7 linked regions of the Homo sapiens genome follow. The protein of the gene in region 5 purifies or fractionates together with the protein of the main gene of each other region. This does not show direct contact. Each region holds a gene or a part of one and is shown on either strand. Other genes may lie near its edges.

The links.
Region 1: the proteins of SGK3 (region 5) and SEPTIN2 purify together in Homo sapiens (affinity purification with mass spectrometry, with the first as the bait; one large-scale study listed by BioGRID). This does not show direct contact.
Region 2: the proteins of SGK3 (region 5) and TRMT1L purify together in Homo sapiens (affinity purification with mass spectrometry, with the first as the bait; one large-scale study listed by BioGRID). This does not show direct contact.
Region 3: the proteins of SGK3 (region 5) and ST13 purify together in Homo sapiens (affinity purification with mass spectrometry, with the first as the bait; one large-scale study listed by BioGRID). This does not show direct contact.
Region 4: the proteins of SGK3 (region 5) and CTNNBIP1 purify together in Homo sapiens (affinity purification with mass spectrometry, with the first as the bait; one large-scale study listed by BioGRID). This does not show direct contact.
Region 6: the proteins of SGK3 (region 5) and CCDC186 purify together in Homo sapiens (affinity purification with mass spectrometry, with the first as the bait; one large-scale study listed by BioGRID). This does not show direct contact.
Region 7: the proteins of SGK3 (region 5) and BLVRB purify together in Homo sapiens (affinity purification with mass spectrometry, with the first as the bait; one large-scale study listed by BioGRID). This does not show direct contact.

Annotation. Positions count from the first base shown.
Region 1 is NC_000002.12:241,343,119-241,347,333, reverse strand, and holds part of SEPTIN2 (septin-2), read right to left. Parts: intron 3,583-4,215; coding exon 3,437-3,582; intron 1,169-3,436; coding exon 1,085-1,168; intron 1-1,084.
Region 2 is NC_000001.11:185,118,555-185,122,769, forward strand, and holds part of TRMT1L (tRNA (guanine(27)-N(2))-dimethyltransferase), read right to left. Parts: intron 1,956-4,215; coding exon 1,829-1,955; intron 1,718-1,828; coding exon 1,465-1,717; 3' UTR 1-1,464. UniProt on the Homo sapiens protein: Specifically dimethylates a single guanine residue at position 27 of tRNA(Tyr) using S-adenosyl-L-methionine as donor of the methyl groups. Dimethylation at position 27 of tRNA(Tyr) is required for efficient translation of tyrosine codons.
Region 3 is NC_000022.11:40,842,962-40,847,176, forward strand, and holds part of ST13 (hsc70-interacting protein), read right to left. Parts: intron 1,949-4,215; coding exon 1,878-1,948; intron 1-1,877. UniProt on the Homo sapiens protein: One HIP oligomer binds the ATPase domains of at least two HSC70 molecules dependent on activation of the HSC70 ATPase by HSP40. Stabilizes the ADP state of HSC70 that has a high affinity for substrate protein.
Region 4 is NC_000001.11:9,868,627-9,872,841, forward strand, and holds part of CTNNBIP1 (beta-catenin-interacting protein 1), read right to left. Parts: intron 3,767-4,215; exon of another isoform or gene 3,627-3,766; intron 3,463-3,626; coding exon of another isoform or gene 3,439-3,462; coding exon 3,343-3,438; intron 2,652-3,342; coding exon 2,561-2,651; intron 1-2,560. UniProt on the Homo sapiens protein: Prevents the interaction between CTNNB1 and TCF family members, and acts as a negative regulator of the Wnt signaling pathway.
Region 5 is NC_000008.11:66,710,868-66,715,580, forward strand, and holds the start of SGK3 (serine/threonine-protein kinase Sgk3), read left to right. Parts: upstream 1-1,913; 5' UTR 1,914-1,966; intron 1,967-4,713.
Region 6 is NC_000010.11:114,132,262-114,136,476, reverse strand, and holds part of CCDC186 (coiled-coil domain-containing protein 186), read left to right. Parts: intron 1-230; coding exon 231-329; intron 330-499; coding exon 500-586; intron 587-1,421; coding exon 1,422-1,564; intron 1,565-3,958; coding exon of another isoform or gene 3,959-4,085; exon of another isoform or gene 4,086-4,215.
Region 7 is NC_000019.10:40,451,964-40,456,178, forward strand, and holds part of BLVRB (flavin reductase (NADPH)), read right to left. Parts: intron 1-4,215. UniProt on the Homo sapiens protein: Enzyme that can both act as a NAD(P)H-dependent reductase and a S-nitroso-CoA-dependent nitrosyltransferase. Promotes fetal heme degradation during development.

The sequences.
Region 1 (4,215 bases), on a different chromosome or scaffold from region 5:
ATGTGTACAACATATGTATCTAGAAATCCATCAAATTATTAGAATGTGAGAATTTTAATGAATTACAACACAGGAAACTTTTGTTGTTGAGACAGGGTCTCACTCTGTTGCCCAGTCTGGAGCGTGGTGGTGCGACCATAGCTCACTGCAGCCTGGACCTACTGGGCTCAAGGAATCCTCCCCCTAGTAGCTGGGACCACAGGCATGCACCACCACATCTGGCTAATTTAAAAAAAATTTTTATAGAGGCGAGGTCTCCCTATGTTGCCAGGGCCGGTCTCAAACTACTGGGTTCAAGTGATCCACTTGCCTTGGCCTCCCAGAAAACTTATATAAAAACATATTAGAATGGTTAAAAAGAAAAGGTGAGTGAGGATGGCTGCAGGACTTTGCGAGGATCGAAGCTGCTGCTTCAACGGCCACTGGCTGCTTGGATGCCACTCATCCTGGCCTCACCCTTAACTCAGGTGCTGCAGTTTCCTAATGGCAACAAGTTTGTCCTCACGTACAGAGTGATGCTTTTGAAGGAGAACTCGACACAAGCCTCTGGCCTTTCCATCTAAAGTTTTTGTTTGTTTTTTGAGACAGGGTCTTGTTTTATTGCCCAGGATAAAGTGCAGTGGTGCAATTATGGCTCACTGCACCTCCCAGGCTCAACTGCTCCTCCCAACTCAGCCTCCCGAGTAGCTGGGATTATAGGTGTGTGCCACCATGCCCGGCTAAATTAATTTTTTTTTTTTTAAATTTTTGTAGAGATGGGACTTCACCATGTAATCTCATGGTCTCAAAACTCCTGCGCTCAGGCAATCTACCTTGCCTTGGTCTCCCAAGGTGCTGGGATTACAGGCATGAGCCACCGTGCCTGGCCTAAAGTTTTTACGTGCATATCATTAAATGTACTTTTTCTTAAAAAGGCTAAAAGAGCATAATTTGATTAAATTAACAACTCTTTTATAATAACTTTTGAGTAGGAAACCAAACCATGTTGCTTAATGGTCAAGAAGGCTGAGCTGAACACATAGAGGAGGAGGAACATTGTGGCTCAGGGTGACACAATACAGAGAAAGGGGCACAGTGTGATGACCTGCCGCCTCTCTTGAGTCTCTCAGAACGGAAGTTTTCATAATGAAGGTCCTGGGTCACCTCCTGGAGATCCTGCATGTGGGTGCTGAAAGAGAAGAGGAATGCACCAAGGTGGCATCATGCACATGACATTCTCATGAGAAAAAAAACCACCCATCAAGTACATAGAAGAAATAGCAGTAATTAAAATTACTTGGTAAATTGTACATAAAGCTGCTGGGATTTCAGGATAATGAGTATGGCCGTGGAAATGTCTAGTGAGGTGTAGCTCTCCCTTTCTTCCCCAATAAATGATATACAAACACAGGTCTCGACTGAGTCTCTCAGGGGGATTTCTGCTAGAGGCACTGCCACCCCTGTGTGAGGCCATCACTACCACAGGATGGCAGACAGATTTTAAGAGATTTTCAGGTCAACAATGTCTGAAATAGAAGACACTCTTCTAAAAGGACTTACGGAAAATGTAATGAAAATATTCATGCCTCCTATAACTCAAAATTTATATATTACTCTCATATGAGAAAAAAGAGTTGGTTAGCTTAAGCTATGTACAAGACCATAAAGTGAAGGACTAATATTCTGGATCCAAGAATATTAGTCAGCAACTTAACCTTCCATTCATCTTATGAAGCACTCTTAAAAAATTTTTTTTAATTGCCTAGCTTATTCAAAATACTTAAAAGCAGGCAAGAATGAGCAAACATTGTAACACGTTCCTATTGATTCAGGATCCAGGGAAATGGATTGAGATAGCCAAGGAGTGGCTCACTCTACCTCATTGTGAGAAACACACAACTGACACTAAAGTAAAGTCCCCAAACCCTGTCTTCAGCCTCTACACCCCCCTCAATAATGGGGATCAGGATAGCCACAAGGATGCAGCCCTGGAGGGGCTGAGTGCGCTTAACTTCTTACACAACCATTAAATTGTGTTTGACACAGCTTGGATGGTAACATGCTTACTTATTTTAACTCACTACAAATTGCTAAACTAAGTGAGACATGCGGCAAATATGTAGCGACTTTCAGCTAATCAAAACACTGATTTATCCACATCAGTCATTCTTTGAAGTCCTCTGATTAAAGAGGTATAGTTTAAGCAATACTCTCAGCCTGTTCTTTTTGGTTTTTTTTTTTGAGATGAAGTCTTGCTCTTGTTGCCCAGGCTGGAGTGCAGTGGCGCAATCCCGGCTCACTGCAACCTCCACCTCCAGGTTCAGGCGATTCTCCTGCCTCAGCCTCCCAAGTAGCTGAGAATACCGGCACCCACCACCACACTCGGCTAATTTTTTTGTATTTTTAGTAGAGACAGGGTTTCACCATGTTGGCCAGGCTGGTTTCACCATGTCGGCCAGGCTGGTTTCACCATGTCAGCCAGGCTGGTTTCAAACTCCTGACCTCAAGTGATCCGCCCGCCTGGGCCTCCCAAAATGCCAGGAGTACAGGCATGAGCCACCGCACCCGGCCTCAGCCTCTTTTTTCAAGAGTAAAAGCAATGTATGCATGTTACAATATGTGAAATTTATTTATTTAATTTATTATTTTTTTGAGACAGAGTCTCGCTCTGTCGCCCAGGCTGGAGTGCAGTGGTGCAATCTTGGCTCACTGCAACCTCTGCCTCCTGGTTCAACAGTGATTCTCCTGCCTCAGCCTCCTGAGTAGCTGGGATTACAGGTGCGCACCACCACGCTTGGCTAATTTATTTTTTGCACTTTAAGTACAGATGGGGTTTCACCATGTTGGTCAGGCTGGTCTTGAACTCCTGACCTCGTGATCTGCCTGCCTCAGCCTCCCAAAGTGCTGGGATTACAGGTGTGAGCCACCACGCCCAGCCATGAAATTCATTTTTAAAGAAGACTATTTTTGTAGTCAGGTCTGTAATTGCTATTAATAATAAATGGAAGACACAAAAAGCTAACCAGGGCCATACAATGAGTCTCAGACTGGTGAGCAGGGCACCAGGGGTGGCTCAGCCTGGAGCAGTGGACCAGGGGCCTATACAGCCTGACTGTTTCCTTACCAGCACTGGGGACCTCTCAGACCCCAGTTTAGGTTCTAGTCTCCTTTTCTCCTTTTAACATCAAAGATGTAAGATCTTAGCAAGAAGGAAAGGTACTGCAGGCTACAGGCCACAGGCAGAAGCGCTAGTTTAGTAGTGCCACAGAGGGCCCCTGGGTGAGGGTTCTCAGCACCAATCTGCAACAGCCCCACACCACTTCTGCGATGTGAGAAACACTGAGGGCGGCAATGAAGCTGCTGGCTGCAACTATCTTGGGGGCCAAGTGTACACCCCGTCTGAAATCCATATTCTTCACGCCAAATTCTGCCAGAAGGAACACACCAAATGTCTTACATGAGCATGGTTCTCAGCTTCAGAAAGTCATTGTGCTCTGGGTTCTCCACTTCCACAACACCCCAGGGGTAGAGGCGGCCTCTGACCTTCTTTCCTTTGGCTTCAATCAACTGATTGGATCCAACCACAGAGAATGGGATGCTAGCCTAGAAAGAGACACACAGAGTAGACAGGCTCCACACAGGGAACCCCAGAGTTCACTGGCAACACGAGAACATTAGCACAGACTTAACACATTGCTGTTGACTACAAAACTGAATTGGAAAGCTGGGGGTATGTAACATTTTCTTGAAAAGTGTCAGATACTTTCTACATGGGACAAATTGTACGAAAACAAATTAAACCTACAATAAAATTTCTAAGCTTTAGGTGATAGCTGTATCAAATTTTTTTTTTTTTTGAGACAGAGTCTTGCTCTGTCGCCAGGCTAGAGTGCAGAGGCGCGATCTCGGCTCACTGCAACCTCTGCCTCCTGGGTTCAAGTGATTCTCCTGCCTTAGCCTCCCGAGTGGCTGGGACTACAGGTGTGCACCACCACATCCACCTAATTTTTGTATTTTTGATGGAGATGAGATTTCACCATGTTGGCCAGGATGGTCTGGAACTCCTGGCCTCAACTGATCCATCTGCCTTGGCCTCTCAAAGTGCTGGGATTATAGGCATGAGCCACTGCATGAGGTCTTAAAATATATTGAAAGCAAAAATACTCTCGTAACTGAACATACCCAGGCAATCTCTCTCACCTCAACATGGACAACAGTAAACAGGAGTTATTTATG
Region 2 (4,215 bases), on a different chromosome or scaffold from region 5:
TATTCTGCTCATTTGCAAGTTATAATTTTAACTGGCAAGAATTACACAGCAGAATTTTTTTAATGGTCATTATAGAAACTAGCTTGCACTTCACCTATTTCTTGATTTTACCGAAATTTATGACCACATTAATTGGAGAAAGGAAAATAAACTCTCTTGGGAATACGCTGTACTAGCACGAAGAGATTTTCCTTCATTTCTGCAAAATTAATATTCTCTATTCATCTAATGCCTATCCACTAGATTTTTTTGTATATGTCACAGAAGTACTTTTTTCTTAGGTAGTATATTTAAACCTTTCAGTTATAATTATTACCACCCCCTCCACCCCCTTCCCCCCACTTAATGGTTATAAAAAGTTACATCCCTTAAGAAATATTTAGGGATAAATATGGATCAAATCCTTGAGACAAAAACCCAAACTTTATACCAAATCCTTTCATCCAAAATCTTATATTCAAATGAAGTGAGAATTCCATTAAGGAAACAATATTTTTTTTTTCAACTAATTTTTATAGTTACATCAGCCTGGGCTAATTATACAGAAAATTTATACAAATACACACAAAACCAAAAATACCAAACCAAGCAACAACAAAAAAACAACCCCCAAACCCAAAAACTCTCATTCCATAAGGTGACAAATTTTACTTCTGAGAGGTAGTACAACCAACCAAATGAATACTGTACGTGCATTAACTGAGGCACTTAAGATCACCCAACCTTTTTAATTTATAACCAAATCTCTCCTCTTCAGGATTTCAGTGCTCATGAACAAGTATTATATTAGATTAATGGTCTCAATTTATTCTGACAAAATCTTACTTTGAAGTTTAGTCATTTAGACCTTAAAGTTACAAAAATAAAGTATTTCTATCTCAGGCAAGTATTTAATTTCTTAAAAGCTAGTAAGAAATGAAAAGATCAATGTGGAGAGAAGTATGATTTCTTAAAAATGGGTACATATTTTAGTTTTTTAATTGTGAAATACATTATGACCTGTAAGAACATTGTTCTTCCTATTCTATTCAGGGTCATTTTAACATGTGAGCCTTCAGCTTCATTTTGTACACTACAAACAGGAAAACATAAACATCATGAATCAGTTTAGGCAGAGATGTGATTAAGAATTGTAAAAGATGGCTTTCATAACATACATAAAATTCCAAACACTTTGCATGTGAAAATTTTCTGAATTATTAAGCAGTAGGGTGATCTCAGTGAGACTTGGCTTCATATGAAATGTTTCCATTAAAATTTTAAGTTTGCCTTAAAACAAAAAAAAACTTGGAAAGCAAAGCTCCCAAACCAGCTAAGTTAGAAACTGCTCAGTTTCTGAATGAAAATGACACTGTTTTTTATTTTTACTCTACTGAATTGAAAGAACAGAAAAAGAACTACAGTTGGTATAGAGAACTATTAGGCCATCTATACAGACACCTGAGAACCAATTCTTCTCTACGTTTACCATCTTCTGCAGCCACTTGCTTCTGCTTTGTCATTCACTGACATTTCAACTCTTTCAGTTACTGTATCTTCAGATGCTGACTGGACATGGCTTTCTGACTGTCCTCCAGTGTAGGTGGGGGTGCTGTACTTTAAAAGGATAGATTTAAACTGCATCAGAGGTGCATCTGTGCGTACACCCATTGGGTCAAAATGAGTTCGGCTTACTCGAAAGCCTGCTTGAGATAAATAGCACAAAAACTTTTTTAACCTGCAAAAAGGAAAGGAAAGAAAAAATAATCAGGTTCTTGTATTTTTATTTAAATCACAATATTATTAAAATATAAAATATATATACTTTGTCATTCACTGGGTGTCTTACTTTGGCATATTCATTCCTTTAATGCTGTGTCTGTGAATGTTGTAATAAAAGGGAGGATGTTCAGTACTGACATCAGTCTTTTGCTTCTTGCCTAAATTTGTGATCATTTCATTACTTTTTCTCTTTCCTGCAACATACACATACAAAGTTAGCATGCTCTTAAAAATTACAAGCCAAATACTTTTATAACTATATATTTATCTCAAGTATAAATCCTGACACATTATTTCAACCTGACTATCCAATCTTAATTCTTATAATTTATTCTATTTTCACGGTCCTTCACTTATGTAATTTTCATATTAAACTGCTGAATCAGAACTTCCTTTCTACCTTCTTCAACTTCAAGCCACACTCTATTTCGTCTCCTGTAGGAAGCCATCTGTCAATCTGGGGCTAGTCACTTCATACATTTCATTGTTGTTAATACTACACTACACTACTCAGAGTTTGATTAAGTTGTCATTTTTTTTTCTTTTCTTATAGTTCCTTAATGTGTGTAAGTCCTTTCTCCCCAAGTTATATTCTAAGTTCCTAAGGACAATGTCTTTCATTTTTATACCTGTATTTCTACTGAGTGATCAGTATTGGATACACAGTGGGTCTTTAGTAATCACAAAACAAAGAAAAACAACACAAAGTCTTGAGAGTTTGGACACAGAAACTGACATAAGGTCAATGTTATGATCTCATTGCCTATTTCTCATCACAGCACTTAGTTTTTTCATTTTGAGTGAAAGGAGGCCAGCTAAGATTCTAGAACTGTATCCTTCCAAAAATCACAACATGAAAACAACTGAGATATCCAATACTATAATGAGATTTTGCCTGGTGTTCAACCCTTGATTATTTATATATGAACGTTATGGTCAAATCTTATCTCTTCAGGGAAAGTAATTAACATCTGCTTAAGCAAAATATTCAGAAGCTGCCAGGAGCAGTAGCGTACACCTGTGTAACTGGGACCCAAGTCCCAGCTACTTGGGAGGCTGAGGTGGCAGGATGGCTTGAGCCTAGGAGTTTGAGTCTAGCCTGAGCAACACAGTGAGACCCTGTCTCTTAAAAAAAAAAAAGTATTGAAAAGGCAAAGTTGATACATAAAAATAAATTACATTCAAAATAAATATAAATTATTGCTGAACTGTTGCCTCTTTACATAAAAACATAAAGCAAAAAGGACAACCTGGGATCCATCCATCAAATCAGAATTATAATTTGAAATCTAAAATTTGAAACTGCATGAAATCTAATGAGGCACCTAGTCAAAGGATAGATATCCAGATTTAGTACAAGTTCTAGGAGCATCTGAGGCAAAAAATCTGATGTAATACGTTAATAGTGAGTATCATCAGCAGTATATAGATTTTTTTTTTTGGCCTGGTAATTTCTTCTTTTTTAAAAAATAATTTCAACTTTCTTTATCGATTAAAGGGTATATGTGTAGGTTTGTTACGTGGGTATATTGTGTAATGCTGGGGTTTGGGGTCCTAACAACCCCAGCACCCATGCAGTGGGCATAGTACCCAACAGGTGGTTCTTCAGCCCAGGCCACATCCCATCCCTCCCCCATCTAGTAGTCCCCAGTGTCTATTATTCCCATCTGATGTCTGTGAGTACCCAAAGTTTAGCTCCCACTTGTAAGTTAGAACATGGGGCTTTGGTTTTCTGTTCTTGCATTAGTTTTATTAGGATAACGGCCTAGAGTGCCATCCATGTTGCTGCAAAGAGCATGATTTTGTTCTTTCTTATGGCTGCATAGTATTCCTTAGTACATATGTTCATTTTCTTTATCCAGTCCATTGATGATGGGCACCTAGGTTGATTCTGTCTTTGCTACTGTGAATAGCACTGCAATGAACATATAACGTATCTTTGACAGAATGAATTATTTTCCTTTGGGTTTGCATAGTACTATCATTTTAAGATTTTATGTGTTGACCAATGGTCTTAGAATAACCATATAATTTAAAAGTTATAGAAGAGCCCACAAAAATTAGTCTAATTTCCTTAATTTACTTATGAGAAAGGCTCACAGATTAAAAACAAATTTTTTTTTTGAGATGGAGTTTGGCTGTGTTGCCCAGGCTCACACAATCCTTACACTATCCTCCCACTTCAGCCTCCTGAGTAGCTGAGATTACAGGTGTGTGCTACTGTGCTCTTGGCTTTTGAAAATATTTTTAAAGCTTATTTATGTTTTACTTTATTCTAAAAAGGATTTAAGATAATTTTGCTGAATGGGAGGGACCTGGCTGAGTTTATATAACAACGCCTGCATAGGATAATACTCTTAAATCTAATTTTTTTTTTTTTTTTTTTTTTGAGACAGTCTCGATCTGTCACCCAGGCTGGAGTGCAGTGGTGCAATCTTGGCTAACTGCAGCCTC
Region 3 (4,215 bases), on a different chromosome or scaffold from region 5:
AATAAAAAACTAGCTGGACATGGTGGTGCATGACTATAGTCCCAGCTGGTCAGGAGGCTGAGGTGGGAGGATCACTTGAGCCCAGGGCGTCAAGGGCGCAGTGAGCTATGATTGTACCACTACACTCCAGCCTGGATGGAAGAGTGAGACACTGTCTCAAAAAAACAAAGCACAAGACTTATGGGGAACACGTTAGTAAGTTATTAAAATATTTTAAAAACACCTAAAAATTGGGCAGATAACATTATTTATGGATAGTTTATCTCAATGGTGAGGAGATATATCTTTTCCCGAACTTGATTTAGATTTAACACAATTCTAACAAAGGGGAAAAAAACCAATGGAAGCGGGGAGACTTGATCAACCTATTTCTAAAATTTACTTGGAAAAACAAAAAGCCAAGAACAGCCAAAAGACTAAAAAGTTTTGGGGGTCCTTGTTCTACAAAATAACAAGACTTAGTATCAGACGATGTGGCATTAGTGAACAGAAAAAAAATAGACAAGCAGAACAATAAACTCCTGAAACAGACCCACAATATTCAGAAACAGTGTATTTTAGTTTTGGTGGGACCGGTAGATTAAAGGTGAAAGGTGAGTGTATAAAATGTTCAGAAGAGAAAAAGCAATGCACTACAGCAATTATAACCTCAAAGTAATAAAGCAGAAAATATCTGCATTAAAAGATACTATTTTTGAAACAACATGAAGAAAGATGAGTGAAGATGAGTCACAAACTAGCAGAAAATATATGCAGCACTAGCAACAAATTATTAGCATCCAGAATATTGAAATGAAATACAAAGCAGTAAGAAAAAGATCCAGCAAAAAGTGGAAAAAGTTTAAACAGGAGTTCGCAAATGCCAGTGAACAGCCAATAAACATTTAAATATGCTCAGCCTCATTAGGAATCAGGAAAATGCATTTTTTTTTTTTTTTTTAAATAGAGTTTTGCTCTGTCGCTCAGGCTGGAGTGCAGGGGTGCGATCTCACCTCACTGCAACCTCTGCCTCCTGGGTTCAAGTGATTCTCCTGCCTCAGCCTCCCAAGTAGCTGGGATTACAGGCGTGCACCATCATGCCTGGCTTATTTTTGTATTATTAGTAGAGACGGGGTTTCACCATGTTGGCCAGGCTGGTCTCAAACTCCTGACCTTAGATGATCCACCCACCTCGGCCTCCCAAAGTGCTGGGATTACAGGCGTGAGCCACCCTGTCTGGCCAGGAAAATGCAAATTAAAAGCCACAAAAAGATACCATTTCCCACAATACTTGGCAAAGATGAAATCTGATAATATCAAGTTTTGAGGATAAAAACCAATCTTTTAAAACTGCTATTACTATATTAGAGTGTTTCTCAAATTTTTATCAGACACTAAGGAGCCTTTTTAGACATCTTTTCCTCATTTCCATATCCCCAATTTTAATACCACAGATACACTACATATTAATATTCTATGAGTCTTTGGAGGACCACTAACCATTGTAATATATAGAATTTTTTTTAAGCCCTCCTCCCAAGAACCAATTTTCACTCCCTTGAGGGCCTGTTATGACAAACCATTCTGTAATACAATTTGGCATTAGATATTCCATCAAGAGCAACTCCACTAATAGGTATGTATTTTAAGTGAATTCTGCGTTACAGTGCAAGCAGTCACACCAGATGCAAACTTAAAAAACAGATAAAACAGAAAGTAACAGTATTTATTTTCATTAGTATTTTAAGTAGTAAAATACAATGCTTGCCTAAAACGCCTGAAGTCAGAGAAAGATTTACTATGCGCTTTTCCTGGAAGAATCGTGTCATAAAATCATTGCAACAGCAGGACCTTTCACATTTCTTAGAACAAGCAGGAAATCAAGTCACCGAACTTACCTCCGCATTTTCATCTCCCATTTCTTGAGGAGCATCAGTGTCTGGTTCAATCACACCTTCTTTATCAATTTCTGCCAAAGTCGAGAAAATGACAATAAGACCTGCACCGTACAATATAGTAGCCACTCCCAAGATTATTAAAAACTGACATACTATGACTACTACAATTAATTATTTTAAGTATTGATGCATTTTAAAATATGTTCCCATTAAACATTTCGTTACTTTGGTAAGACTACACTTTACGTTAACTGTCACATCATGTAAGATATTTATTATCAGGTTGTAGTGGGGTTGTTGACATGTGCAGTTTCTAGTATTACACATAAATACACCACTGATTTAGTCATTGTATATAAATACACCATTGTCAACAAACTGATTTAGTTCAAATAATTTTTTTCTACACACTGATGTACTATGTTTTTCAAAAATATGCAGGTAAGCTACAGTGATACTTCAACGTAAATCAAAATATTTTAATATAATTACATTCATTACTTTCCTTTTTTAAAATTAAAATAATTTTGGGGGGGGCACAGGATCTTACTATGTTGTCCAAGAAATCCTCCCACCTCGGCCTCCCAAAGCACTAGGATTCCAAGCATGAGCCACTGCACCTGGTCCCTAATTATTTTCATTTTTAAAAGTAGCATGGACAAGTTTTAATTTTAAAATAAAGGCTTACTACTGATGCAGAATCAAGTACCAAGGCTAGATTTAAAAATAAATTTAGTTTCCATATGTACAGTAGTGACCAAAGCTAGTACTTACAACCAAAACAGTAAAGAATGAAAAGCAGTATCTTGCTTTTCAAATTGTCATTTAACAGTTGTCAGTTAAATGACAACTGTAATTTGTTGCAAGTGGAAAACGAGTTTTATATATATATACACACACACACGCACGTATCATTTAAAAAGAACACATTTGCAAATAGTTAATTTGATAAGAAGTTTCCTTAGTCAAAAAAAAAAAATTTAAAATCACCCACCTAAAATCAGAATTACTGTCCAGCAACAACAAAACTTGACGCATGACTGACAAACTATATATATACATATATGTATATGGTGTACAATGCGATGTTTTAACATACAGGCATATCGTTTTTTGAGACGGAGTTTCGCTTTTGTTGCCGAGGTTGGAGTGCAGTGGCGCAATCTTGGCTCACCGTAACCTCTGCCTCCCAGGTTCAAGCAATTGTCCTGCGTCAGTCTCCCAGGTAGCTGGGATTACAGGCATGTGTCACCACACCTGGCTAATTTTGTATTTTTAGTAGAGATGGGGTTTCTCCATGTTAGTCAGGCTGGTCTCCAACTCCCGACCTCAGGTGGTCCACCCGCCTCAGCCTCCCAAAGTGCTGGGATTAAAGGTGTGAGTCACCGTGCCTGACCTCAGGCATACCTCATTTTATTGTGTTTCACTTTACTGCACCTCACATAATGAAATGATTCTCACCCATCATATTAATAACTATCCATCTCACATATTTATTTGTTTTTGGTGAGAACACTGAAGATCCAGTCTCTTAACAAATTTCAAGTATACAGTATTATAGTCATGCTGTATACTGGATCTCTGGAATTTATTCAGATTATAGCTCAAAGTTTATGCCCTTTAACACGGTAAAAAAATTTTAATCCATTTTTTAACAGCAACTAAGCTTGTCTATCAAAGTTTGATTTGTATACAAAAAAGAAAACACTTTTAGGTGGAGAGTTGGTTAAAAAATTTATTGTAGTTTTAGAAACTGGTAGAAAGTAAGACTAAAGAGGCATTTTATAAAAAGTAAAAGATCTTCAATTTAGCACTCAAACAACTGCCAGTAGAATGTAAGACCTCTAATGATATCAAAGATAATTTGATTCAGGCCAGGCGTGGTGGCTCACACCTGTAATCCCAGAACTCTGGGAGGCCAAGACGGGCAGATCACCCGAGGTCAGGAGTTTGAGACCAGCCTGGCCAACATGGTGAAACTCTGTCTCTCCTGAAAATACAAAAAAATTAGCCAGGCATGGTGGCATACGCCTGTAGTCCCAGCTACTCAGGAGGCTGAGGCAGGAGACTCGCTTGAACCCAGGAGGGAGAGGTTGCAGTGAGCCGAAACTGTGCCACCACACTCCAGCCTGGGTGGCAGAGCGAAACTCAAGTCTTCCAAAAAAACCCCAAAAAAACAACAAAAAAAAACTGATTCAAAATTTAAAACATTTCAAGTACTTTTCTTCAGGTTCTGTGATATAAGAGACTTCCAAATTCATGAAGAAATTTAGTCAATTTGTGGCCAAAAAACCAACCAAACTCATAGCACAGATAACTACTCTTCTAAATATGAACC
Region 4 (4,215 bases), on a different chromosome or scaffold from region 5:
ATTATTATTATTATTTTTTGAGACAGAGTCTAGCTCTGTTGCCCAGGCTGGAGTAAAGTGGTGTGATCTTGGCTCATCGCAAGCTCCGCCTCCCAGATTCAAGCGGTTCTCCTGCCTTAATCTCCCAAGTAGCTGGGTAGCTGGGACTACTGGCACCTGCCACCATGCTCAGCTAATTTTTGTATTTTTAATAGAGACAGGATGTTGCCATGTTGGCCAGGCTGGTCTTGAACTCCTGGCCTCAGGTGATCTGCCCACCTTGGCCTCCCAAAGTGCTGGGATTACAGGCATGAACCACCACGCCCAGCACCCCTTGTCAAAAACAAAATTTCTGACAGTCTGGTATATATTCCACCAGCTTCTTTGTCTTTTAAAAATTTTTTAAATTTATGAGACAGAGTCTCCCTCTGTTGCCCAGGCTGGGGTGCAGTGGTGCGATCATGGCTCACTGCAGCATCAACCTCCTGGGCTCAAGCGATCCTCTCACCTCAGCCTCCCTAGTAGCTAGGACTACAGACGTGTGCCACCACAGCCAGCTAGTTTTTGTATTTTTTGTAGCGAGAGGGTCTCCCTATGTTGCCCAGGCTGGTCTTGAGCTCCTGGGCTCAAGCAATCCTCTTGCCATGGCCTCTCAAAGTGCTGGGATGACAGGCGTGAGCCACTGCACCTGGCCACCAGCTTTTTTTTCTATGTGCATATACAGCTTGTGTCTTGTGTGTATGTGTGTTGTTGCTGGGGTTTTGTTTTGTTTTGTTTTGTTTTTTGAGACGGAGTCTTGCTCTGCTGCCCAGGCTGGAGTGCAGCGGTGAGATCTTGGCTTCCCAAGTAGCTGGGATTACACCTGCATGCTACCATGCCCAGCTAACTTTTGTATTTTTAGTAGAGATGGGGTTTCGCCACGTTGGTCAGGCTGGTCTAGAACTCCTGACCTCAGGTGATCCACCTGCCTTGGCCTCCCAAAATGCTGGGATTACAGCTGTGAGCCACCGTACCCGGCCTGTTGCTGCTTTTTATACTGACATATGGTCCTACATTTTGATGTCTCCTATTTTGATTTTTTCCCAAGAGTATTCAACTGGAGGCTTTCTTACCATCCGAGCTCAAATTCAGGTTAACTCAGTGACCAAGACTAAGTGGGAAGGAAGGTGAGTCTCCAGGGACTCAGAAGCCTGAAGGTTTCAGGTTGACATGAGTCAGAAGCCATGGTAGAGGGTGCCATGCTAGAAACCCAGATTAGCCCTGGAAGAGAAGAGACCTCACCCAAGAGATCCCAGGATGGGGCGGGAGCCGACGCCACATAGAACAGGCTGCCGCATGATCCAGGAGGCACACCTGGGCAGACACACCCAGGCAGGTTGTGCGTGGTGAGCTGCTGTCCCAGGGAGCTGCCTGAGCCACTGCCTGGAAGGTTTCTGCTGAGTTGGGTGCACAAGCCAGGTCACACCCAGCATCGGTGCTTGGGAACAGGCCCCTGTGCCAGGACAGAGCCCTAAGACATCCAGGAGAACAAGGGCTGGCTGGTGATCTAGGTCAGGCCCCGCATGCCAGCCTCAAAGCACAGCAAACGCAGCCGTCAGCACTCTGCTTTCGGGGGCCCGCTCGCGTCTGGACATGCCACAGGTTGTAATATTTCATGGCCAATCATTCCAACAAAGCATAAAGAGAATAAAAGGAAAGGACTCTATGGAGATGCTGGTCAGAATACTAGGCCTCTGTGTCATGAGAAGCCTTCTAGAGAAGGAGAACCTTGCTGAGCAGCCAAGGGACATGGAGCTGTCCAGTAGCCATGTGGGTTATGGGCAAGATGGCAGACAGTGAAGCGCTCCTCAGCCACAGGTGTACATCCCGGGACTCCCCAGTAACCACCTGGCTGCATGACCAAGTGGCTTACTGTTCCCAAATCCCAGTTTCCTTGCCTGTTAAGTGGAAGTATTAATAATACAAATAGTAGCTACCTACAATAGAATGAAACAACGGTGCCTGCTACACAACAAACACTCACATCCTGCCTGTTACCATGCTGACTTGTTGAGGTCACCCCAAAAAGACAGAACTCCCTCAGGCGCACGGAGACATCAGGCCTTTGGGGCATTCCTCCTGGCCACAGCCAGGACCACACCAGCCACAATGTGGTCTGTGCTCAGGACAACAGTGACAGCATTGTTCTAGCACACAAGGGCAGTTTCTCTCTCCTGGACAGGGTGCTGGGTGGGTAGGGGTCAGGCCAAAGGTTAAAGAAATGCAATAATCAGTCTCTGCAGTTATGAGCGCCCCCAGACATCTCCATTTCCTGCCTCTTCCAGGCCTTAGAAAGGGATCCTGCCATTTGTCTTGTAGAGTCTTTGGCTCCCACCTGAGGAAGGAGATGGGATCAGGTGGGAGGCTCCGAAGGTTTCCTGGCTCAGCTCTGTGGGTGGAGAGAGCTGTAGCCCCTCCTAGTCAGCCCTGGGTCTCATGGATCACCCATCAAAGAGGGCTGGAGCTACGCTTTCTAAGGGAACCACAAGTCGGTGCCCCTGGGACTTGTGCCACTGCCCCAGCCCCTCTGCCGCCAACTCACCCTGGTCGATGGAGTGCGGAGGCAGCTGGCTGAGCTGGCTGTTGACCACCCCTGCATAGGTGCGCAGGAACTCCTCCTCGCTGGCTGTCAGCTGCAGGGTGAGAGAGCTGTGGTGAGGGGCAGCATGCACCTGTTCCCTGAAAGGCACCTGCACCCCTAGAGGCACCGCCTAGGCCTGCTTGGTCCCTGCTTGGTCCCTGCTCGGGCTTCTGTTTCTGAGATTTGACCCCTTTGCTTTCAGGGCCAGCCCACCCCACTCCCACCCTCCTTAAACTTGGTCCAGGGGTCCAAAGCCTTTGCCACTCAGACTGAATCTGAGATTAAGGTCTGTTCTAGTATAGGGCCAGTGGAAGACACAAGTCCTGCCCGGAAGGCTGAGGGGCGATTCCATGTCCCTCCACTCTTTTTGAGAAATACCCCTGCACATGCATGCCTGCTGCCCCCTCAGCTCCTGTCCTGACAAGTTGTCCCTGAGCTGCCCCCTGGGAGAGAAGACTTTCGGGCTTGTGAGGGGGAGAAAAGGAAGGTCAGGGCCTTGAGACCCTCACCCGCCTGGCCCCAATCCGGCAGTGTCGGGTGTCCCCAGAACTTGACGTGCTGGGCTCTGTGCCTAGGGGGCCAGAAGCAGCCCTAGAGCCAAGCCACAGGCCCAGCGGCCCCTCCTCAGCCCGTGGCTCCGCAGGAGGCAGCCGCAGTGGCTCCACCCTCCAATAGCCCAGCAGGGCCCCTCCCTGGGAGACCCTCCCTGGGGGCCCGCTGCCTGACACCCCACAGGCACTCACGTTTGATCCCATCTTCCGCAGCATGAGCAGCACTCGGACCTTCTGCTGAATGTACATCTCCTCCGGACTCTTCCCGGGAGCTCCCTCGCGGTTCATCCCCCTGCCTGGCTCTGGGGACTCCTGCAGAGCAAGCAACAGCATCAAAAGGGAAGAGATCAGGATGTGACATACTGGGACAATGACACCTGCTAGTGACCCTCACTCCTCCCAGGAGCCGCTTTCCACCCACAGTCTCCCTTCTGGGAGCATGGGGCAGGTGGCGAGGTGCTGGGTTCCTTTCTCACCCATGCTGGTCCCAGCAGGCTGAACTGAGCAGCTCTGTTCTCCAGCAGGCGCTGCAAGGGCTGGCCTGCCTGCTGCCTCTGTGCATGAAGCTGCTGCGTCCAGGAAAACTGAGATGACCTGGACTGCTGGTTGTTTCTACCTGTGAATCACCCCAGAGCAAAGCTCCTGCTACAAGCCACAGGACACGTGGTGCATGAAGCCCCAAATGTCCCAGGTTTTCAGAACAACTTCCACAAGGGGCAAAAAAGTGATGGGATCAGAGGCAACTGGTTAGGGCCTTTGGCTCGAGAAACTGTGAGATCAGTGCCCAGCCCCCAAACACTGAGACAGCTCCCTCGGCAAAAGCCCCTGACAAGTTTAAGAGGCCAGGGTTGTGGCTCCTGGGCTGGGCTCCAAGGGGTCCCTTGATGGAAAGACGCTGGCCCAGGGTTGCAGGGCTTGCTACCTCAGCCCTCACAAACCCACCCCACCTGTCAGAGGGTAGCTCCTGCAGGCAGCTGGGAAGGCCAGCAGCGTGTCCACATGCAGCAGGGACCTAACCTGTAGAAAGTCCCCAGGAGAGAAGTCCAGAGCCCCCTCCCTCCAGGA
Region 5 (4,713 bases):
AATTTAATTACAGTGAAAAAGTCCTTAGTAGTTTGTGAATATATTTACCTCCTCTAGCTTTTTGCAAAATCTAGCTATTAAATTGCAGCTCTCAGATTGTAAAGGCAAAATGCCTAACATGTTGTCTGTTGATCAAATGAACCCAGCCTGGGCAACACAGTGAGACCGTCTCGTCTCAAAAAAAAAAAGAAAATACATAAAATGTTTGTGGGAGGTGATCTCTGTGTGTGTGTGTGTGTGTGTGTGTGTGTGTGTGTGTGTGTGTGTTCTTCACAATAGGACAAATTTATCTAGAAATGTAATGGTTCCCAGATGTTTATTTTTTTAAAAAGTCAAGATGTGGTGATAGCCAGGTATTTGTCTCTAAAGTGAGAATGATGTTATTCCACTTGGAGTTTATTGACACAGAACTTCCTTTTGTCTGAGAAATCTTCAGCACTGTGAATATGGCTTTAATTAAGAGATACACTCATCACTTGTTGATTTTGTTACAAGGGAAGAACTCCTCTAATGTATGTGGATTGCTTTGTGGACCACAGTAAAACATATAAAGGACCACCGGCAATGTATTGTTTTGTATCTACTGCATTCTTATATTCATTTCTGAAAACTACTGTTTAGAAAGTTCTGTAGGATTACTGAAGTACAAAAAGTATTTGGATTCACAATCCACTTTTTAAAGAGAGGCCACATTGTGGTTATTGACATTAAAAATGAATGTCCTAACCCATACTTGTGGGGCTAAATCTTTGAATATCATTTTAAAACATGAGGAAATGTCTTCTGAATTTAGGGAAGTCACACATAGATCCCAGTTCCTCTAATAACCTTTGGCAGTTTATTTGTTCATAGATTTGTGGCAAATTCTCTGGAATCATATGATCTAAAGTACAAATCATTGTCTCAAAATCTAAGGCATGATATGCACATGGGAATCTTTAAGTACTTGTCTGAGTCTATCTTCAAGTGATATCTGATAAGACCTAAATTACAGTAGTGTTGTGGGACGAAGAAAACAACCCACTCTACTTCAAAATCTTAACCACTTGACTCCACATCCATTGAACCATGTAATTCTTAGTTCTCCACTCAGCTTCTCTATCTGTTAAAAGAGATAAACAGATCTAAAACGCAGCTTCTGTAATTCAAGAATGAGTAATAAGGAGCTGTAAAGTGTGCACTCAGCTGACTTGGAGATTAATGGGAATAAAAAAAAGAGTCAGTAGATCTAAAAAGATGTGTGGAAAGGAAATTTCTCTGCACACAGGATCTGCCAATTTGTGAAAGTTCTCGACTGTTTATAAACACAAGGGCCGTAACTCTGCTAATGACAAAAGTGGAAAACTGTCCAAATAATGCTAAATGAATCACAGTTGTTCTCAATTATTTGGATATTTAATTCACTCCTCTGAGTTTCCAGTTTACACCAAGCCAACCCCCCCAACACCACGGGCCCACCCGGGGGGTCCTGATCCCTGCACACACCAGGTCATCTCTGTTGGGCCCCGGCGCTCTGGCCCGCGCCGGTCTTGGGCCCCAGGGTAGCGGCCACTGCGGGCGGAGCAGAGGGAAACACCAGAGTCTGTGACTCCAGACAGGACCCACTGTGTCCTCTTGAACTTTGCACAGCGCGTGACGGGGGCAGACGGTGCACCGTGGCCCGGCCTTTCGCGGGGGTCCTCGGGGAAGAGAGAGGAGCGCGGGTTTCCTCGGAGGCCTGAGCGGGACGCAGCCTGCAGCCCCTCCCCGCACGGGCTGCCCCCGGCCCGCCGCTCGCGCCGCTCTGCTGGGATCCGGCGCCTTCCCCGGCTGTCCTCGGCCTCCCGCGCGCTCCGCGGGAGGAGCCGCCAGCGGCCGTGACGCGTCAAGGAGGAAACGCCGGCGCCCGGCGGCCCTGCCGGGAAGGAGGAAGCGCAGTGCGTTCGGCTCCGCGCCCGCCGCGCCGGGAGCAGCACCGCGGGGCCAGGTAGGTGCGGGGCCGGCGGGAGGGTCCGCGCGCCCGGGACTCCGACGGCGGCCCGGGGCGGGAGGAGACGGGGCGGGGCGAGGGCTGCCCGGGCCTCGGCCGCTGCCTGTCCTCGGAAAAAGCCGTACCTCCGCCCAGCCCCCGGCTCCCGGAGAGTTTGTGGTCTTTGTTTCCACGAGGTGAATTCAGATCCTGCCTCGAGATTCCTAAACGCCCAAGGGGCGTCGGTGGCTGGACCTTGTTAACCCCCACGCAGCCGCCGAGCCTGGAGGAACTGGGAACGCCGAGCAGGGAGACCCTATCTGAGGTCGAAAGTGGGTGCAGGTCACCTGCGAGGGTCGGGGAGGGGGCAGCCGCCAGAGTGGGGTGGATGGAATCGTTTAACCTGTTGTCAGCGGATCTGTAGTAAAAGACCTTAATACGTTGCGTCTTTTAAGTTCTCTGTAATTTGAACCCTTACGTCTCTTCAAGTGAATCTGGCCCTATTAATTCTCACAGTTTTAGCTTTGGAATGTACCCACAAGAAGTGCTTTGAGATTTTTAGATTCTGTCATTTTTAGTCATCGTTACTTGGAAAGAGAAAAGAGAAAGGAATCATCTCTTGAAACTTAAAACGCTTTCATTGAGTTGTGCACAGTGACTTCTGAACCATGAGTAGAATTTCAGTCCTGCACCAGAGACTACTTAGTGTGCACTTGGGTGCAAAATAAATACAGAGCACTGTAATTTCTAAATCTTTTGTCAAAGTGAAAAATAGACTGTTGTGTATTTTGATTCTCTCCCTTCTCACCAGATTGAGACTTCACCCAGCCAATCTGGGAGGTGCCTTTTTTTATTTACCAAACACTTACATAGCCCTTACTATGCGCTGGGCTCTTTCTAAGTTCTTTATAAATATTAAATCAAATTCTTAACTTATCATATTATAGCGGTTCTAGCAATGAAGAGGCTATCCATACTTTAGTTCCCCAAATGTCATTGGAAGAGCTGTAAACATTAGAGGAAGTTTTAGGCATGTTTTAGCACCGGGTGTGCCTTCTGGTCCCCTTGGCTACCACTTCTGTAAGACAAGCCACCACCCCAGCATTTCCCTGGGGTAAGGGAGCCTGGAGCTCCTGGGAATGCGACCTGTTCAAAGCAGATGTTGGCCAGAACCTGAATGACTTGTGTAACATGGTCTCTTTCAACTGCCGTTGTGCCCATCGGCTAACTCTGGAGACACCAGAACTTCCCCTTCTTTAACTGCCACTGCATGGAGCCTACTTTTGTTTTTGAAAAGAGCTTTGTTCCTGATCTGTTCGACACTGTTTATATGACATTATTTATATGACATAGTTTAGATATGAGGGTCAGATTGAACTTGAAATGTACTATAAAATAGAACATTTTTGTTTGCACACATCAACATAACAAATAACGTTTTGTAATTTTACTGCTATTTGCTCTTGGAAACATTGAATTGGTAGGTCAGCCTCATAGGTGTACCTTTTGTGATTTGCAGATATGCAGAGAATATTTTTTCAGAATAACATGCCCTCTTCAAATGTGCACCATTAGAGACCCAATGTGGTGACTAAGATAGACATGATTCTTGTTATTGTGACTATGAATGTAATGTCAAAATCTGCACATCAGACTAGCTTTCTGACTCCCTCACTCCCTTTCTGTGCCCCCCTCCCTTATCTCTCTCTCATATATTTAACTTTTCAGAGAGATGATTAAGTGAGCCGATAAGCCTTATTTAATAGGATTATGAAGTGTCTCTTGAAGCAAGAAGGCTCATGTTCCTCTGATATATTAATAATTTATGACACAACAGGCATTAGTGTCATTTGTGAATTCAGTTTAGTCGGATGACCCCTAGCATTTTCATGGCTTACAAAGTGCTTCCAGACATACTCCTTTACCTTTCAGAGAGATCTTGTATGGTTGATCTCTTAATTACTTTTTATTACCTGTTTTTACAGATGAAGAAACTGAGGCATGGAAATGTTAAAGTGCTTTAGCCTGGATTGCACAGCAGGTGAGAGGCAGAGCTTGAATGGAGGGCAGGTGTGTGGACAGTGCCTGGCACGTGCAGGCCTGTAATAAACATCTGTGGAATGAATGACTCCAAATGGCTTCAGATATCTTGCTCTTTCAAAACATGTCTCTCAAAATACCGTAGTAATTGATTTATGCCTGAGAGATTTCCAGGCCTAATCCAATGCCTCTCTCATTTCAGACAGTATCTAATACAGCACATTTTCTACAAAAAGGATGGGAATCCCTTTGGACTTATTTCTTAAGATTTGCCACCTCTGGTTTTTGAAAAAGAAAATAGGTTGGGTATTTTTTTCATCCTACCTTTTTTCTCTAGTTTTGAGAGTTTAGAACGGACACATGGTATTTATGTTTATGTTGACAGCTTGCTTTCTTTCTTTCTTTCTTTGTTTTTTTTTTGAGACAGAGTCTTGCTCTGTTGCCCAGGCTGGAGTGCAATGGCGCAGCCTAGGCTCACTGCAACCTCCGCCTCCCGGGTTCAAGCGATTCTCCTGCCTCAGCCTCCCGAGTAGCTGGGGCTACAGGTGCATGCCCCCATACCTGGCTAATTTTTGTGTTTTTAGTAGAGACAGGGTTTCACCATGTTGGCCAGGCTATTATCAAACCCCTGACATGATCAGCCTGCCTTGGCCTCCCAAAGTGTTGGGATTACAGGCGTGAGCCACCGTGCCTGGCCACAGCTTTCTTATCTTTCTAAACTACTT
Region 6 (4,215 bases), on a different chromosome or scaffold from region 5:
TCATTTAATTTTACATAAACACACTCGAGGATGAAACAAATCTGACTGATTTTCAGTGGAAGATAAAATAAAAAAACTGTTCTTGGAGTTATTTCTAAACAGAACTTGTCTCTTATCCTAACGTAACAGAAATGTATATGATGCTACATTAGGATTAGAGACGAGTATTCTCAGGGCAAACGGGAAATGGGTTAAAAATTGTCACACTTTTTTTGTTTTCTTTCCACTAGGAGTCAGAAGAAATTAAATCAAATGAGCTTGATGCAAAGCTTAGAGTCACAAAAGGAGAACTTGAAAAACAAATGCAAGAAAAATCTGACCAGCTAGAGGTGAGTAGTTTTGCTCTTTATATATCCTAAGTTGCATAATAAATACAGAAAGAGAAATAGTGAGAACTTATTGCTATCTACTTTTAAGGCCTTTTGGAAGGAACAGGCAATAAATCTTAGATATAGTTTAGCACATTATGATTTGTTGTTTCTTTTAAACTTTTTTAAAGATGCATCATGCCAAAATAAAGGAACTAGAAGATCTGAAGAGAACATTTAAGGAGGGTATGGATGAGTTAAGAACACTGAGAACAAAGGTAATTCAGTCTTTAGTCATGAATCCAGAGGAAGGGTAAATATCTTAAATTTTGAATTCATTCTGATTTTTAAAGTGGTGGGGAAAGGACATTAATATAGAAATGTTCCATAATAAAGGAACTCAGTAGAGTAGAGGAGCAATTTCCTAGCAACTTCTTTTGTTGAAAGGAAAATGTCTTCCATGTTAGTCCCTTTGAAGTGTTTGCCAAACATTACTATTTCACAGCACATTTGCTGTGTCTATAGCTTATCCTTGGGCTTCTCATCTAAAGGCAGTCTCATCAACGAATCAATTGGAAAGATAGTTGGACCTTAGAACTGTGTCAGAAAATAACAGGAAGGCTATATTTTTCCTGGATATATTTAATAGATGGATAGTTTTAATGGCCAATAATCTGTTAAGTCCTCTTCGTGTTTATAGTCTTTATTGTAAGATTAGTATGTCTTCTAATATGAATATGAATGTGTATCATTCATTTATTTAGAAGTAGTCCTTTAACCACCCTGAATTTGAGGTCACTTAATAATTTTAAATTGTTTTTCATACACCTTCTTATTTGTTCTTCTTGCCAGTTTTTTGAGGTAGAGGAGATATATTCTTTTTCAGGTGAGGAGATGGTGATTCAGTAAAAAGTGAAATGACATGCTAAAACTCCCATGACTGAATCATAAGAAATCTGAGACTAAAAGCTAGGATTGTAAACTTCGCATTATATTTTCTTCACGTTAATGGTGCTTTAGAATTTTTAGATTATTCATATGTAACCACTATACAAAATAGTTTATAAAGAACAAGAATACATGGTTTGTAACTTGGTTGTGATCATTTGATAGGTGAAATGTCTAGAAGATGAACGATTAAGAACAGAAGATGAATTATCAAAATATAAGGAAATTATTAATCGCCAAAAAGCTGAAATTCAGAATTTATTGGACAAGGTGAAAACTGCAGATCAGCTACAGGAGCAGCTTCAAAGGTACAAAATGAGCAACTTCTGTTTGTATTAATAAGCAAGCTTTTAAATTTTATTTCAAGATTTTCTAAATGCAGTTATTGCATTAAACAAAAAATTTTACAATTTTACTAGCTGAAATTTTTAAATATTTTCTCTTTATCTGAACTTCTTTGGATTATCTTTTGAGTTCTGTCATGGCTTCTAAAAATCAAAGTTTATATTCCTTAAACATTGGTAGTGGCAATTTATAAGACAGAATAGGTTGAGTCTCTTATCCATTCCTTAGCTTTCAAATTCTGTTACTTATGCACAGTGTTTACTTTTTCTTCTAAAAGGTAAATCTTGCTCTAGATCTTCGCACGTGTGTAGCTTAAGATCCGGAGCTGACATTATTCCTTGGCTCCTTATAAAACCATTTAAGTAAACTCTACTTGTGACATTACCAGACAGAACCTGGATTCAGTTTGAAGCCAGATAGCTTCTTTTCCACACCTTGCTGATAACTAAGCTGCTGAGTGTTGCTAAAAAAATCCTTACCATCATTTAGATTGATTCTGCTAATAAATTCATGGTCACTAACCTGAACTGGAAATATTAATGCACCTAATCTTACCATGTGTCTTTGGTCAGAGGTTCTCCACCATCTTCTAGCATCTTTTCTAAACCCTACCATTTTCTTCACACTTCAGTTTTTCCTCTTACCTTTCTATTTACTCTTGGCAAGTGTTTACTTCTTCACAGAAAAAATGGGAGCTGTCAGGTGACAGTTGTCTCAACGTTTTGCCATCAGTCCCATGAACTGCCTGCATCTGCAGCCATATTTTCTGCTGTTATCATGGAAGAAACAATCTTGTTATCATGGAAGAAACTCCTCTGAATCAAATTAGTCTTTCTACTTCCGCTATGGATTTCATCTCTTCTGACTTTTTGGGTTCTGTCTTGATTATTCTTCTTTATCCTTTATGTCTTACCTTTCTCCACTTTCTTTTTCTTTCTACATTTAAACATAATTGTCTTTTAAAAATATCAAAACTCCTGTGGCTTTGCCCTGCCAGCTTTTCTCCTTTCCTTTGCAGCCAAACTTTATATAATCTTCTGTATTCATTCTCCGTTTCCTCACTTCCTATGTTCTGTACCTCTCCACTTCATTCTAGCTTTTACCCCAACATTTTATTAAAAATTACTGATGTATCCCTGCATATGGTAGACACATTTCAGACCCACCCTTGCTTGAATTCTTATCATCTTTTAACACTGTCGAATTCAGTTGTCTTTCTTGATAGGCTTGTTCCTTTGGCTTCATTTCCATCACATGCTGATGTTCCTCTCACCTTTTTGGCAACTCTCTCTCAATCTCCTTGGCAGGCTTCTCTTTCTCTCATAATGCCCTCTTGTTCTAATTTTATTGTAACTTTGGGTGATCCCAACTATTTTTATAGTATGCTGCAGGACTTTTGAGTCATTATCTTTAGCCCTTTTCACTAAGCTCCAGGCACAAGTATTAAAGATACCTCAAACTTTAGCATTTCCAAAATCGGTTTCTCTGTCCCATGCTTCTCCTCACATGTTCCTAGGATGAATGATGAGTGCAGCATCCATGTGACTGTCCAGCTTAGCAGGCTGGGGGCCATCCTCAGCTCTTCTTTCCTTCCCCTCACACATCTAACCAGTCACAAAGTATTAGTGATGCTAAGTCTGTAACATCTGTCAAGTCCATTCACTTTTTACTTCCCTGCTGCTACTACCATAGTCCAAGCTATTAGCAGCTCTCACCTGGAAAACTGCCACAGTTTGTATTTTTTCTGCTTATATCCTCTCTAATCTGTTTTCCACACTATGGTTAGTATAATCCTTTTTAAAAGGAAATTTCAAAACTCTTCATTGATTTCCCACTGCCTCAGAGATTGTCTAGTGAGTTCCATTGCCTTAGCATGGCTTGTAAGATTAGTGACCTGTCCCTTGCTGCTTCCATGCCTTCCCTTTTTTCACCCTTGTATTTCAGCTGTAGTTGATTAACAGATGTTTATGGATTGTTTCCTATTTCCCAAACCCTGTGTTAAGTGCTAGGGATATAGTACAGTCTTTCTCTTCATCAATATTGAACATCTGTTAGGACCAACAAGAAGCCTCTTATTCCCTTCCCAGTTTTTAGCACATACTGTTTGTTCCCTTTACCTGGAGCATATTTTGTTCTCCAGTAACTCCTGCTTTGCCTTTAGGTCAGGGATCAACCATGGCTTACAAAACAAATCCAGCCCACTACCTCTTTTAGTAAGTGAAGTTTTTTTGGAACACATCCACACTCATTCATGTAATATCTGTGGCAGTTTTCATAGTACAATGGCAGAGTGGAACAATTGCAGCAAAACCATATGACCCAGAAGCCTAACTTATTTACTATCTGATCTTTTACAGGAAAAGGTTGCTGACTCCTGCTTCAAGTATTAGTTTGAGCATCACTTACACTAGTTTAGGCAAACCCACTCTGTGCTTTTATCATAAAAAATGTTTTTTTACACATATAATTTCCACACTTGACTAAAAGCTCTTTGAAAGCAGAGGCCATGTTGGTCTTGCTCACTTTTCTTTCCAGCTCTTATTTCCTGGCATATATTAGGCATTTATAAATATTTGGATGAATGAATAGAAGTACCTTTATTAAGCATTTGACT
Region 7 (4,215 bases), on a different chromosome or scaffold from region 5:
ACAATAATTCCAAATCTGACCTCTTCTCACTCCGCCTGGTCCTGTCCACTGTTACCTCTTGCCTGGACCAGCCCAGCAGCCTACTCCCTGGTCTCTCAGCCCCTCCTTCCCTCCTCCCAAGGAGCCCGTGAACACCCCTATCAGTTCACATCCATAGCTCCATCTCACTCAGGGTAGAAGCAAAGTCCCCATGGCCAGCCCTCAAGGCCCCACCTGATATGGCCCCATCAGCCCTCTGACGTCCTTGCCTACTCTGCCTACCACTCTCTCTTACACGCCTCTGCTCCAGCCAGGTTCTGCCTCCCAGCCTTGGCAATGTCTGATTCCTCTGCCCCTGATGCATTTCCCTCTCTTTTTTATTTTCTCTGAGACAGGGTCTCATTCTGTTGTCCAGGCTGGAGGACAGTGGCGTGAACACGGCTCACTGCAGCCTTGACTTTCTGGGCTGAAGTGATCCTCCTGCCTTAGCCTCCTGAGGAGCTGGGACCACAGGGGTGAGCCACCAAACCCCACTATTTTTTTTTTTTTTTGAGACAGAGTTTCCTTCCCTCTTGCCACCCAGGCTGCAGTGCAATGGCATGATACCGGCCAAGCCTGGCTAATTTAAAAAATTTTTTTAGGCCGGGTCTGGTGGCTAACCCCTGTAATCCCAGCACTTTGGGAGACTGAGGAGGCCAGATCGCCTGAGGTTAGGAGTTCGAGACCAGCCTGGCCAACATGGTGAAACCCCATCTCTAGTAAAAATACAAAAGTTAGCTGGGCATGGTGGTGCATGCCTGTAGTCCTAGCTACTCAGGAGGCTGAAGCTGGAGAATTGCTGGAACCCTTGAGGCGGAGGTTGCAGTGAGCTGAGATCGCGCCACGGCACTCCAGCTTGGGAGACAGAGCAAGACTCCATCTCAAAAACAAAGCAGAACAAAACAAAACAAAACAAAAAAAACACAAAAATTAGCCAGGTGTCGTGGTGCATGCCTGTAATCCCAGCTATTCTCAGGAAGCTGAGGCAGGAGAATCCCTTGAACCTGGGAGGCAGAGGTTGCAGTGAGCCGAGATCGTGCCATTGCACTCCAGCCTGGGTGACAGAGCAAGACTCCGTCTCAAAAGAAAAAGAAAAAAACATTTTTTTTGTAGCGATGGAGGTCTTACCAAGTTGCCCAGGCTAGTTTTGAACTCCCGGGCTTAAGCGATCCTTCCATCTCGACCTCCTAAAATGCTGCGATTACAGGTGTGACCCAGGACCCTTTGCCATTTCCCTCTCGTAGCCACATGGCTCCCTGTTTTCTTTGCAGACTTTGCTCAAAGGTCACCTTTCCATGCAGCTTTTCTTGACTGTCCTGTTTAAAATTGCAAAATCCTGTCTCCCCCAGCCCAGTTTACCAATCCCTTTTCTTGGGGCCTTGTTTTCTCCCTAGGACCCTTCCCCTGCCACCACACGCTAGAGTTATCCTGTGACTCTATCACATTTCCTGCTCCAATCCCAGCCCTTAGAAGCATCTGGAACATTGTAGGTACTTACTAAATATTTGTTCAGGAATTAGCTTTCAACAAGCTATAACTTGGCCAAGCTACACCAGCTGACATTTATAGAACTTTTACCTCAAGCCAAGAACTATGCTAAATATTTTTAGGAGCAGTTTGGTGAATAGTTAAAGAGCTTGGGTTTTGCCTAAAGTCAAGTACTGGATCGACCACTGGCCAGCTTCTTGTTTCCTCATGTGCAAACTGGGATGATATAAATTGTTCAAAGGCTGGGCAGAGTGGCTCACACCTGTAATCCCAGCACTTTGGGAGGCTGAGGTAGGAGGATCAGTTGAGCCCAGCAGTTCTAGACTCACCTGGGTACGATGGTGAGACCTGTCTCTACAGAAAATTAAAAAATTAGCCAGGCGTGGGGACCTGTGGTCTTAGCTGCTTAGAAGGCTGAGGCGAGAGGATCGCTTGAGCTCAGGAGTTCGAGGCTGCAGTGAGCTGTGATTGCACCGCTGCACTCCAGCCTGGACAACAGAGCAAGACCTTGTCTCAACAAAAAGAAATAAATAAATAGTTTGAGTAATGTTAGTGGTTATAAAAAGGTGTGTCACAGAGACCAGCCTGGGCAACAAAGCCAGACTCTGTCGCAACAAAAAAATTTTAAAAATTAGATGGGCATGGTGGCACATGCCTGTGGTCTCAGCTACTCAGGAGGATCCCTTGAGCCTAGGAGTTGGAGGCGGTAGCGAGCTATGATGACATCATTCTCACTGCAACCTCCACCTACAAGTTTCAAGTGATTCTCCTGCCTAAGCCTCCTGAGTAGCTGGGATTACAGGCGTGTGCCACCACACCTGGCTAGTTTTTGTATTTTTGGTAGAGACGGGGTTTCACCATGTTGGCCAGGCTGGTCTCGAACTCCTGACCTCAAGCGATCCACCTGCCTTAGCCTCCTAAAGTGCTGGGATTACAGCGTGAGCCACTGCGCCTGGTCTAGGATTTCCTCTTTACAGATGAGAAAACTGCGGTGCAGAGTGTGAAGTGGGTTTTTGTCTGCAGCCTCCAGTCTCCAGTTCACAATCTCAAATCCAGTCTCTAACTTACCCCTAGTTTCTTTTTTCTTTTTTTTTTTGAGGCAGTCTCGCTCTGTCACCCAGGCTGGAGTGCAGTGGCACGATCTCAGCTCACTGCAAGCTCCTCCTCCCGGGTTTACGCCATTCTCCTGCCTCAGCCTCCCGAGTAGCTGGGACTATAGGCACCCGCCGCCACGCCTGGCTAATTTTTTGTATTTTTAGTAGAGACGGTGTTTCACTGTGTTAGCCAGGATGGTCTCAATCTCCTGACCTCGTGATCCACCCACCTTGGCCTCCCAAAGTGCTGGGATTACAGGCGTGAGCCACAGCACCCGGCTGTTTTGTTGTGTTTTGAGACAGGGTCTTGCTCTGCAGCCAAGGCTGGAGTGCAGTGGTGCCATCACGGCTCACTGCAACCTCTGCCTTCTAGGCTCAAAGGATCCTCCTACCTAAGCTTCCCAAGTATTGGGGACCACAGGTGTGTACCACCACACCCAGCTAATTTTTTGTATTTTTTTTTTGTAGAGATGGAGTTTTGCTGTGTTGCCCAGACTGGTCCTGCACTCCTGGACGCAAGCAATCCGCCCACCTTGGCCTCTCAAAGTGCTAGGATTACAGGCGTGAGCCACTGTGCCTGGCCTTACTCTGGGTTTCTTTCTAATCCTCTCAGATGCCTCCATAAAAAACAATCCTCCCCAAGCCCTAATGGATAAACTCCAAGCTCCTTAGATGACAAAAATCTTTCTAATCTTTTACCTTGACATTTGAATATGGAGGGAAGATTAAACTCTAATAATTAGAGGCTGGAAGATAATTAAAGTGTGACAATAGCACTGTGGTGCTGGAAGAGAAAAGTCCTTTTTCTTGGGACTTGCCGAAGGTGTCTGTGGGTGTGCAACTCCATTTCAAATAGTTTAGGAAGTCTGGGCGCAGTGGCTCATGCCTGTAATCCAGCACTTTGGGAGGCCAGATCACTTGAGGTCAGACCAGCCTGCCCAATATGGTGAAACCCCATCTATACTAAAAATACACACACACAAAATTAACCAGATGTGGTGGCAGGCACCTGTAATCCCAGCTACTCAGGAGGCTGAGGCAGGAGAATCCCTTGAACCCAGGAGGTGGATGTTGCAGTGAGCCAAGATCACGCCACTGTATTCCGGCCTGGGTGACAGAATGAGACTCTGTCTCAAATAAAAACAAACAAACAAAAAACCCAAATAGTTTAGGAGAACAAAAACAAAATCTATTTGTGTATGTGTATGTGCATAGATAAACCAATTACAAAACACAATCACAATTTTAAAATCAGGAATATGGCTGTTGGCCAGGTGCAGTGGCTCAGGTGTAATCCCAGCACTTTGGGAGGCTGAGGCTGGTGGATCGCTTGAGTCCGGGAGTTCGGGACCAGCCTGGGCAACATGGCGAAACTCTATCTCTACCAAAAATACAAAAATTAGCCAGCCTTATAACCCGGTCTCAAAATAAATAAATAAATAGATAGATAGCTACAAACTTAAAAATAAAAAAAGAAAAGGAATATGGTTGTTCACACGACTATTAACTTTTCTGTTTAAAAATTTTTATAATAAAAAGTTAAAAAGTATATTGAGGACCTACACATTGAAGTAAGCAGCCATGATGTATGTAAGCTAACTTCAAATGGGTCAGA